Linked DNA regions of Homo sapiens. The protein of the gene in region 1 purifies or fractionates together with the protein of each later gene. This does not show direct contact. Each region holds a gene or a part of one and is shown on either strand. Other genes may lie near its edges.

Region 1 (3,652 bases):
ATCTGAAGGGCACATTACCTTAATGTGTTGTTCTTTACAAATTTTACCTTGGCTATTTACACTACCATAAAAATGTTTAAGTTTGCATGTTTACTATCGTGAAAAAAAACCTTTTCAGATTTTAATACTGCATTGACTTTACAGATTAATATTGGACAGAACTGACATCTAATTGACTCTTCTCATTCATGAACACCATGCTGTTGGCTTTTAAAAATTACAACTATATTTTTCACTTCTAAAGTTTTTGTCATTTTCAAATCCACCTCATCTTTTTTCCGCCGATTTACATTTCAAAATTATTTATACTTAAGGGCTATTACTCCTTTTCTTTTTGAAAACCCTCAGTATGTAATTTAATATTTTTCAGACTAACACTGAAATGTCATCCAGACGGAACTGCTCTTATGGTTATTTCATATCTTCCTTAGCATGAGATGAGTTCATATATTTGAGAATTTAGCTTTACAAGTGCACTTTTGATGGAACTTCTTTTGTTTTTCATACAAACACTTACTGAGAACATGTTTACTACTTTTTTAAGAGAACTACAGTATCATAAATATATTTTTAAAAATTAAAAATTTTGGTATTAAATGATCAATTGATATTCAAATTTCCAAATTTCCTCAGTTATCTCATAAATATTTTTCTTACAGATAGTCTAGCTGGAGATTCTGCTCTGCAATAACAGTGAGGATATACTCTGAGTTACCAGGTTCCTAGTTGTATAGCTATGTTTGCTTTCCTGAATCCCTAAGTGTTTGCTTCATATACGCTATGGCATCTGGCAGCAGTCAGCAGCAAATCTTCTTACAGCCAGGGAGGCTGTGACCTGTACCACTCCAGGAGATGTACTAAGTTAAGGGGTCCCCAACCTCTGGGCCATGGACCAGTGCCAGTCCATGGCCTGTCAGAAACTGGGCCGCACAGCAGAAGATGAGCAGCAGGCAAGTAAGCATTACTGCCTGGGCTCTGCCTCCTGTCAGATCGTCAGCAGCATGAGATTGTCATAGAAGCATTAAGCACTATTGTGAACTGCATATGCAAGGGATCTAAACTGCATGCTCCTTATGAGAATCTAACTAATGCCAGAGAATCTAACTAATCATCTAATACCTGATGATCTGAGGCAGAATAGTTTCATCCCAAAACCATCCCCTACTACCCCATCTGTGGAAAAATTTTCATCTATGAAACCAGTCCCTGGTGCCAAAAAGGTTAAAGACCACTGTACTAAGTAACTACAATCTAATCCCTAAAGTTGTATAATATGGCAGCCCTGGAAGTAAACTTAGAAACATCTTTTTTAACAGGAGTCCTATCTTGGACCACTGTTTCCAACAATAAGCCCAACTCTAATTACACTTCCCCATTACTTCAAAGCAGCCAAAATCACACCTGCTCCTTCCTGAAACAGAAGTGTTTACCTTTTTTGAGTCCTAGTTTTGTCAGTTTGGTTTTATCTTTGTTATTTTATCAATTACTGCTTTGTGGGTTTTTTTGTTTTGTTTTTTTTTTTACAAAAAGGAGGGTTTGTCTCAAAATACCACTCAGAAATCCATCTTGATCACAAGCCAGTCCTTACTAAACAGCTTGGAAAATCTGTACTTGCAAATCCGAGACATGAGCTTTCATCAAAATCATCTGGGGAGCTTTTTCAAAACGTACATTACCAGCCGGGTGCGGTGGCTCACACCTGTAATCCCAGCACTTTGGGAGGCCGAGGCGGATAGATCACGAGGTCAGGAGATCAGGACCATCCTGGCTAACATGGTGAAACCCCATCTCTACTGAAAATACAAAAATTAGCCAGGCATGGTGGTGGGCACCTGCAGCCCCAGCTACTCCGGAGGCTGAGGCAGGAGAATGGCGTGGACCCTGGAGGCAGAGCTTGCAGTGAGCCAAGATCATGCCACTGCACTCCAGCCTGGGTGACAGAGCAAGACTCCGTCTCTAAATAAATAAATAAATAAATAAACAAACAAACAAACAAAATTTTTTTTTAAATGTACATTACCAGGCTCAACAATAGTTATGAGTTGAGGAAATGCAGGTAATTCTGTTATTGCTGGTCCAGAAAATAGTATTTGAAAATCACCATATTCCCAAATATTTGGGAACTCACTTTCTACTCCCTTACCACTCTTCCCACATAGCAAGCTACTTGACAATGCTCCGGAGAAGTCACAAAATTCCACAGAGTTGGTAATCCAAAGGTCTTTCCTCATTCTTCATTTTAACACACCACACTATGGCATGACTAAAGCAGCCAATTTCTAGTTCTTGAAAGTGTACTCACATAGTTATTTTTCTTGTAGTCTTCCTGATAGTCTTGCTCTTTTTCTGACTCACTCCTACAGCTCCTTTTCCATTAACTCACTTTATTTTGTTGTTGTTTTGTTTTGTTTTTGTATTTGTTTTTGTTTTATAGAGCCAGGGTCTGTCTCTGTCATGCAGGCTGGAGTACAATGGCACAATCATGGCTCACTGCAGCCTCAACCTTCTGGACTCAAGTGATCCTCCTGCCTCAGTCTCCCGAGTAGCTGGGACTGTAAGTGCATGCCACCGATGGCAGCAGCGGCCCATCTATAGCGGCCACTGCCATGATACCAGCTGCAGTGGGGGAGGTGCAGCCAGGACTGCGTGCTCCATGGAGGCAGCAGAAGCCAGGAACAGGTGGGAACCCTGCCACCTTCTGAGTTGACAGGGCAGGAGTTTCGTGCTCCCTAGGTGCAGCTGCGGCCACCTGCCCAGGTGGGCTGCAGACCCAGGCATCACTGTGCTCTTGGGGGATGGGAGCAGGCAGGAGCCCCACCCTCCCAGGCACAGCTGCAGCCGCCCAAGCTGCAGCTGCAGACCCAGGCATGTCTGCACTCTCAGAGGCCCAGGAAGGCCCCCCGCCCAGTCCCTGCAGGCTCAGAGGTGTTTGCTCCCACTGCCTGGCCTCTCCTCACTCCCAGCACCCACTCCAATCTCAGAGAAAGGTTGGGTCCGAGACTGGGCACTGTCACAGCCTGGCCAAGTGTGCACACGCTCCAGATAGCACTGATACACCAGCCCCCTGCCACCTTGGCCCCCTCTAAACTTTGGGTGCCTACAAACACTAGAGGGAGGCTGAGGGGGTACTGAGGGCAGCTCAGTACCTGTAGGCACCCCCTGTCACAAACAGCCTGGGCACCATGAACAGCAGGAGGAGGCAGGCAGGCTCCTGGGCAAAAGGAGGCAGGTCCCTGGTGAAACCCCACCTTCAAGCCAGGGAAGGCCTGAAGCCTGGGGACCAGGCTTTCCATTGGCACCCGATGACCAGAGTGGGAACTTGTGGTGCTTTCTCCAGGCTCACCCATGGTTGTCAATGAACCAATCAGTACACACACCCTCCCTGCTGAGACCTATAAAAGCCTGAACTCAGCCAGACTTGGGGAGACAACCACCTGCCAGTTGCAGAGAAAAGGTGCCCACCCCAGGGTCTCCTCTCTGCCGGGAGTTGAGAAGATGATGGGACAACCAGCTGCAGGGAGAAGCTACCCACCCCAGGGTCTCCTCTGCTGAAAGCTGAAGAGATATCCAACTACCAGCTGCAGTGAGGAGCTACCCACTCCACGGTCTCCACTCTGCTGACAGCTGAACACTCATCAGGACACCCGAACAC
Region 2 (3,652 bases), about 20 Mb from region 1:
TGTACTAATTTCTTGATCTCTGCTTCACATCACACTCCAGCATAGTTCACACACTGACCTTGCACATCTTAGGACTCTGGTTAACCACAAATCCAGTTCTTCCCATAAAATAGTCTAGTAGGCCTTCCTTAGTTCCTCACGCAGCCTGAAAGCTATATTTACACCAGCCACACACTTCTATGCCTTATGATATCAACCTTCAACCCTGGATCACCACCACCATCTACTCTCTCTGCTCCCTGGCCACACAAAACTGATGAAAACTAGCTGCAATATCCCATATCTGGCTCATTACAAATTCATACTAAACAATTTCATTGTGACCTTTGCTATCTGGCCTTCTCTTTATGCTCTCGGTCTTCTTTATCATTCTCAACAGATAAACCCACTTCACATTTGTCTCAATCCCTACCTCTTCACTATGGTCACTCACACATCCTCTTATCCTTGCCTTCTAAGTGAGAAAGATGGCCTTTCTCTCTCAAGCCAACCTGTACTCTAGAAAGAACCCTTTTCTTTTCTTTAGAAAGATAATTTTAAGACACAGCATCTTTGCGGTTGCCCAGGCTGGAGTGCAATAGCATGATCATAGCTCATTGTAGCCTTGAACTCCTGGGCTCAAGGAATCTTCCTGCCTCAGCCTCCTGAACAGCTAGGACTACAGGAATGCTACAATGGTGCTGAACCATGCTTAGAGAAATATATGGTATACTACAGAAAGGATGAGAGGTAAGTATAGAGGGAAATTAACCAGAGTAGGGCTCCTAGGAGTCTTATACGTTCACTCAGATGTACTTAATCCTGTTTGCTTTTTTCCTTCAAAGATCATAAAGAATGTGGGGTGAGAACATGTATTCTTTTTACCAAGTTGCCACTGCCTCAGAATGTGCTCTGTCCCAAAATAAAACTCCACTGTTAAGAAGAAAGTAGTATGGAGCATACAATTGATAAATCTTTAGTCTCAGAAACTCCATCCACTCTGCATTCACTTGCTTGCAAGCACAGTGCTGCCACATGTGACCACCAAGGATCTTTGCTCAATGGTTAATAAACCCCAGTCAGTGGCCAAATATTCAGTTTAATTCAAAGATTAAAACATGGTCCCCACCCTAATGAGGGTACGAAAAAGATTCAAATAGCATTATACAGCAAGGTTACAAATGCTTCAACAGCACCGTCCTCTTGATTAGTGACAACTACTCTGAAGTGGATCCAGGTTATCACTGCACACAGTGTCTTCACCTGGCTGAGCAGAGTCACACCTTAGAGAGGGTATGCAGACACCCACCCTGTTCCCCACTCCACCTCCCAATTCAGAATTACTAGTTCAGCATTTTAAAAGTGCTCCTTGGCCAGGTGTGGTGGCTTACACCTGTAATACTACCACTGTGGGAGGCTGAGGCAGAAAGGCTGCTTGAGCTCAGGAGTTCAAGACCAGCCCAGGGAAGACTCTGTCTCTATTTTTCAATAAAAAATAAAAATAAAGTGTTCCCACAGAGGACTCATTTAGATATGAACAGGGATGTTGTGACAGTGGCTACAGGGTTACGAGCAAGGGAGCTAGCAATGGAATTTGTGCAGACAGACTCAAAGACTGATTAAGAATGTGGAACTACTGAAAAGCCTGCAAAACCGGCTGAAATTAAATACAGCAGCTTTCTTTTTATCCAGGCATTTACAGGAGTTCCAAGTATATCTGAGGGAAAAAATGCCATCATGATTTTGTCCCCAGTGCCTATATTCAAAATACTTGCTACTTGCTCTGGAAAGTGATTCAGAGGAACCAAAAAAACAGATCGTAGCCCAAGTAACAGGACAAAAAAAGGGAAAATGAGAGTTGAAGTTTTACGTACACCTTAAGTGTCTAAAGACTATTTTGGAGAAAGCCCCATATCTAAGGATAAAAAGCTCCAGCTTCCCTACACAGATTCTGCCTCACACACAGGCATTAACGTGAGGGTTACTCTCGAGTCACAATACCTTCTCGACTAATTCCTGGAAGCAGCTGAGTTAAAGGTTTGTGTGGCTCAGTCATGTCATTTCTAATGTAAACTGGAATTACGCTGAGAAGCTCCTGACGATCTTCCTCATGTACAACAGGAATAGATTCTAAAATCAGCTGCATCTGTTCAAGTTCATGTGCACCTGAGGTTAAAAAACAAACAAAAAAACACATTCCTCAATGTTTACTTATTTCACAATAAACATACTAAACTAATTTAAATATTATAATGACCAGTGGGGGGAAAAGTTTGAATTGTATCATCAGCAGGTTTCATTGCTTTGACTATCACCAATCTACTTATCTATTTCAATTTCTGCTTACTGATGTATTTAGTTTTTGCTGCTTTGTTTCCATAGGGAACTGACTCTTTAAGTTTGGTCTCATATTAAGGTTATCACAAACTAGTGAAAAAAAAAGCAACTGAGATTCAAGAGATCTGGATTCTGGTCTTAACTGTACCACTAATTTACTGGCTATAACTTCAGAGACAATAGCTAACATCTCTTAGGACTTTATTTCAACATCAATGAAATGAAGGGTTGGACTAGACTTGTAAAACAGGAAGTTTTATAGTTCTATGTTAGGGCTCAGTTAGCATTTCTAGGTTGTTAGGCAATGAAAGAAATAAAGGGGGAAACTTTAGGCTAAATAGGTGGTGACTTTTAAAAATTCCATTTGCTGTACTCCAGCATGGATGACAGAGTGAGACCCTGTCTCAAAAACAAAAAATAAAAATTCCACTTGCCTTTCCTTTAATGTCTATAAATTCATTGAACATTCAAAATTCCTTTTAGTTCCTACTATGCGCAGGACACTTGAGAATACAGTTATGAAACAAAACAGACCAAGTGCCTGCCTTCATGGATCTTACAATCTTGTGGATAAAGACAGATAATTCTGTAAAGTAGGTCTTATGGTGACATATGCTATAAAGAAAAAGAGAGTAAGCTAAGGGTGATGGCACTGTTGGGAAGAATAGGGTTGTTAATACTTTTTTAAAGTCAAGAGTTCGAGACCAGCCTGGCCAACATGGTAAAACCCCATCTCTACCAAAAATACAAAAATTAGCCAGGCAAGGCGCATGCCTATAGTTCCAGCTACTTGGGAGGCTGAAGCACAAGAATTGCTTGGACCCTGGAGGAGGAGGTTGCAGTAAGCCAAGATCATGTCACTGCACTCTAGCCTGGGCAACAATAAGACATTTTTTTTTTTTTGAGACAAAGGAAGGCCTCACTAAGAAGTGGAAAATTAAGGAAGTCAGGAATACACCAAACATTCATATGGAAGAAAGAAAGGAGTTCTAGGAAGATGGAGAGAAGCCCAGAAGACAGAGGCAGGTTGGTATGTCAAAGAAACAACAATTAGACAAGTGTAGCAAAAGGAGAGTAGCTTGGGGCAGATAATGGGAGATAAGTCAGAGTGGTACTAGAACAAAGGGTTTGCTTTACCCTGAGTTTGATGGAAAGCCATCATGCAGTTTGAGCAGAGATGACATGATCTACCTTGTCTTTCAACAGGACCACCCTGGCTGCGATGTGGTAACTAAAGACAGCAAATACTGAAGCAGGAAAGAGAAGGTCCTTCTAACAGGAGAGACATAATGGCTGACTGGACCGGGGGAGGGATAGTAAGAGTGACAGTAACAAG
Region 3 (3,652 bases), on another chromosome or scaffold:
GTTCATGGAACTCTAAAGGCAGGAACAAAAACAGCCCTGAAGATCAATCCCTCCGTGACAGGCATTCACTTCTGCCCTAAGTGTGTCAGAAAGATCCCATTTTGTTTCCTAACTCAGGCCAACCCTCCTTTGCCTCCAAAATTCAGTGTTAACTAACCAATTACTTAAGAGACGGATCCCTCTTCCTTCTGTGGATAGTTCATCTGTTAAGGATCCATTATCACCTGTCTCACTCCTCCTAAGGAGTCCTAGTATAAAAGGGCCAGGGTAGGAGTAGGGAAGCTGGTTGGCATGGAGGGTCACAAGATCCAGAATGGCTAGGGATGGAAAAAGAATACCCTGGTTCTTTGGGGGATTCTGCCAAAGGAGCTTTATTGACCATTTTTTTAAAGGAAAAACACTGAATGATCTTGAGGATGGTAAACTGTCTCCTCTTCTGGGTTCCAGAAGCCCTTATGCTACGTTCAGTATTAAGAAAAGCCCTGAACAAGTGGAGGATGCTGCTTCTGGCAGCAGGGAGGGAGGGTAGATGCCACAGCCAACCCAGAGAATGGCAAACAGTGCCAATCCAAACAAGGCAGGGAACCTCTGTGTGGTGTGAATGGGCATGTGACTGTGATGCAAAGTGCCTGGGGCTCACAGGCTCCCAACAGCCAGTTCTCGCAGATAGGACTGGGTAAGGCTGCGCAGTTCGTCCATGGCATAGTCCTCAGGCATGGGAAGCCGGCCAATGTGGGGAGCCAAGAGGCGCAAAGGGACTCGCTGAGGGTCTGGTGTTGAGTCGGAGGTTCTATCAGGAGGATGATGCAGACTCAGCACCACGCGCAGCAGGTTGGCTACACGTTTGGCCATGTCTAGAGAGAAAAACTAGAGTCAAGCACTGAGCATGGGGTCTGGAGAAGGGTGGTAGGCACTGAGGGTGGGGTGTAATAATCATAAAAACAGGAAGCAAGAAGGCAGAAAGAGTGAGGAGGTTAGAGGCTTACCTGACTGAGCCAGGCGATCTTTAGCACTGTAACACTGAATCTGCTCTATCCGACTGCACAGTGAAGTCACTTTGATGTGTAACTGCTCCAGGTCATTACCTGAGCAATCCACCTACAAAGAAGCAGAGAAGCCAATTAATCCAAGGGGAGTTCCTATCACTCCAATCCCACCTATAGACTCTACACAAAACCTTGAAACAACAGTGAGGTGAGGGAGGGGAAAATCCAAGATGATGACACAGGGCCAAGCCACCACCATCTAGTGGAGGACAAGGCACTAATTATGCAGTAATAGCCAAGAGGAAGGTAACACAGTTACCTAGCCTTGGACTAGGAAAAGTCTTGAGATCCCGAACTATACAGCAAGCTTTAATAACACAGCACCAAAAATCAAGATAAATTGGGTTCAGAGAGATGGTATGACTTCTAAAGAGCACACAAGGAAGTAAAAAATGCAGCCAGAACCAACATTTAATTTAGGTCCCCTGACTCCAAGTTTATAGCCTTTTCTAAAACACCAAAAAAGCTGTGTGCAGGGGGCAGGAGGATCAAGAGCAAGACAGGTTATTTGCTCTCATGAAACTGATAGAAAATAAATAAGAAAACACAAAACAGTAATAAATCCTGAAAAATCACAAGCCATGTAGATAATTTAAACAGGTGGATGTGGCAGAGAGAAACTGGATAGCTACTTGAGACTGGAGGACCAAGAGAGGCTTCTTTAAGGAGGTCATATTTAAATTGAGACCTGAATAACAAGGAGAGAGCTCAGCTTTCCAGGCAAAGAGAAGACAGCTAAAACCCCCAAAGGTGGGAATTCAAAGGAGATTTACATGGTGACATGTAGGGTAAGGAGAAGAAGCAGAACAAGATAATACTAGAGAGTTTTTATGTAACATAGGTTTTTTTTTTTTTTTTTTGGGAGAAGGGGGGTCTCGTTATGTTGCTCAGGCTGGTCTCAAGCAATCCTCCTGCCTCAGCCTCCCAAAGTACTAGGATTACAGTCATGCACCACCACATCCAGCTATGTGCTGGCACATTGATAGTACCCTTTGCTTAATCCCTATACTTATCAAGCTATAGTAATTGCTGCTTTACTTGTATGTATCTCCCCCACAAAATCATTATTTTGGTAAGGGCAGAACACATACTGTTTACCTTTATATTCCCCAAACCCACTACAGTGCTTGGCATACAGTGAGTTCTCCATAATAGGTTGTGTGAATGAATTACTCAATATTCAATGAGAAAGTGGTTTCTTCAAGTGATTATTTAGAAATGATGTTCTTGATTCATACTAAAAGTACAGCAAACATTGAATTATGTCTATTATGTGCCAGGCACTGTACTAGGAGTTGGAACTTTGATGAGGATAATAATAGATAACAATTATTAAGCATTTAGTAGAGGCCGAGGTCAGGAGTTTGAGACCAGCCTGGCCAACATGGTGAAACCCCGTCTCTACTAAAATACACACACACACACACAAAGCTGGGTGTGGTGGCACACGCCTGTAATCCCAGCTACTGGGGAGGCTGAGGCAGGAGAATTGTTTGAAGCTGGGAGATGCAGTGAGCTGAGATTGTGCCACTGCCCTCCAGCCTGGGTGACAGAGTAAAACTCTGCCTAAAAAAAAAAAAAAAAAGGCATTTAGTACATGAAAGGTACTATGTAAAACACTTCATGTAGATTTTGTTTAATCTTTGTGAAAATCTGTCAATATGAACTATAATCTGTACTACTGTCTACCCCACCCACCTTTTTCTTTCAGACGAGAGAGGTAGTTAACTTGCTCAAGATTACATAGCCAGTGAATTTGGAAGCCACAAATTGAATCTATAAGTCTGCTTCCAGAACTTGAGCTGTTAACCTCTACACTCTATTGCCTGTAACCGTAAAAGACCTTCCCAAAAGGGGCTTATAGCAACCTGAAAATATGAATAAGTAACTACAATATGGTCTGACAGGTGCACTAGTAGAATAATGTACTAAGTATCTTGGTAGTAAGAAAGTGCAATTAATTATCTCTGGGGAAAAGCAGAGAGAAGTAGGGGTAACAGCAACCTAGATCTTAAAAGGATGAGTTTAAGTGTGCTAGGTAGTGTGGAACATAATATGGTTTGTTAGAAACACCAGAAGTAATTTAGTGTGAGTACAGCAGGCTAGCAAGGCTGGAACGTGGAATAAGAGTGGTAGGAGTAAGGCAGGAAAGGTAAAAGCCTCTAAAAGGACTTGAATCCTATATTTATTATAATGAGTTTGGTTTTTGCACCATAAGCAAGCAGTGGAGACTCATTTTACGACTACAAAGACTGACCTTAAGGCTGCGTGCAGGCGTGCGGTAAGCTCATGCCTGTAATCCCAGCAATTTGGGAGGCCAAGGTGGGCCGATCACTTGAGGCCAGGAATTCAAGACCAGCCTGGCCAATGTGGTGAAACACTATCTCTACTAAAAATACAAAAGTTAGCTGCGTGTGGTGGCACACACCCTATACTCCCAGCTACTTGGGAGGCTGGGGCATGAGACTCACTTAAGACTGGGAGGCAGAGGTTGCAGTGAGCCACGATCACACCACTGCACTCCAGCCTGGATGACAGAGCAAGACTCTGTTCCAAAAAAAAAAAAAAAAAAAAAACTGACCGAAGACATTGACTTTAAAACCCAT

The links.
Region 2: the proteins of MYO9A (region 1) and MAPK6 purify together in Homo sapiens (co-immunoprecipitation; one large-scale study listed by IntAct). This does not show direct contact.
Region 3: the proteins of MYO9A (region 1) and NUP98 purify together in Homo sapiens (affinity purification with mass spectrometry; one large-scale study listed by BioGRID and IntAct). This does not show direct contact.

Annotation. Positions count from the first base shown.
Region 1 is NC_000015.10:72,048,650-72,052,301, forward strand, and holds part of MYO9A (unconventional myosin-IXa), read right to left. Parts: intron 1-3,652. UniProt on the Homo sapiens protein: Myosins are actin-based motor molecules with ATPase activity. Unconventional myosins serve in intracellular movements. Regulates Rho by stimulating it's GTPase activity in neurons.
Region 2 is NC_000015.10:52,057,126-52,060,777, reverse strand, and holds part of MAPK6 (mitogen-activated protein kinase 6), read right to left. Parts: exon of another isoform or gene 3,523-3,652; intron 2,146-3,522; coding exon 1,981-2,145; intron 1-1,980. UniProt on the Homo sapiens protein: Atypical MAPK protein. Phosphorylates microtubule-associated protein 2 (MAP2) and MAPKAPK5.
Region 3 is NC_000011.10:3,675,523-3,679,174, forward strand, and holds part of NUP98 (nuclear pore complex protein Nup98-Nup96 isoform 1 precursor), read right to left. Parts: intron 1,099-3,652; coding exon 987-1,098; intron 855-986; coding exon 637-854; 3' UTR 1-636. UniProt on the Homo sapiens protein: Plays a role in the nuclear pore complex (NPC) assembly and/or maintenance. NUP98 and NUP96 are involved in the bidirectional transport across the NPC. May anchor NUP153 and TPR to the NPC.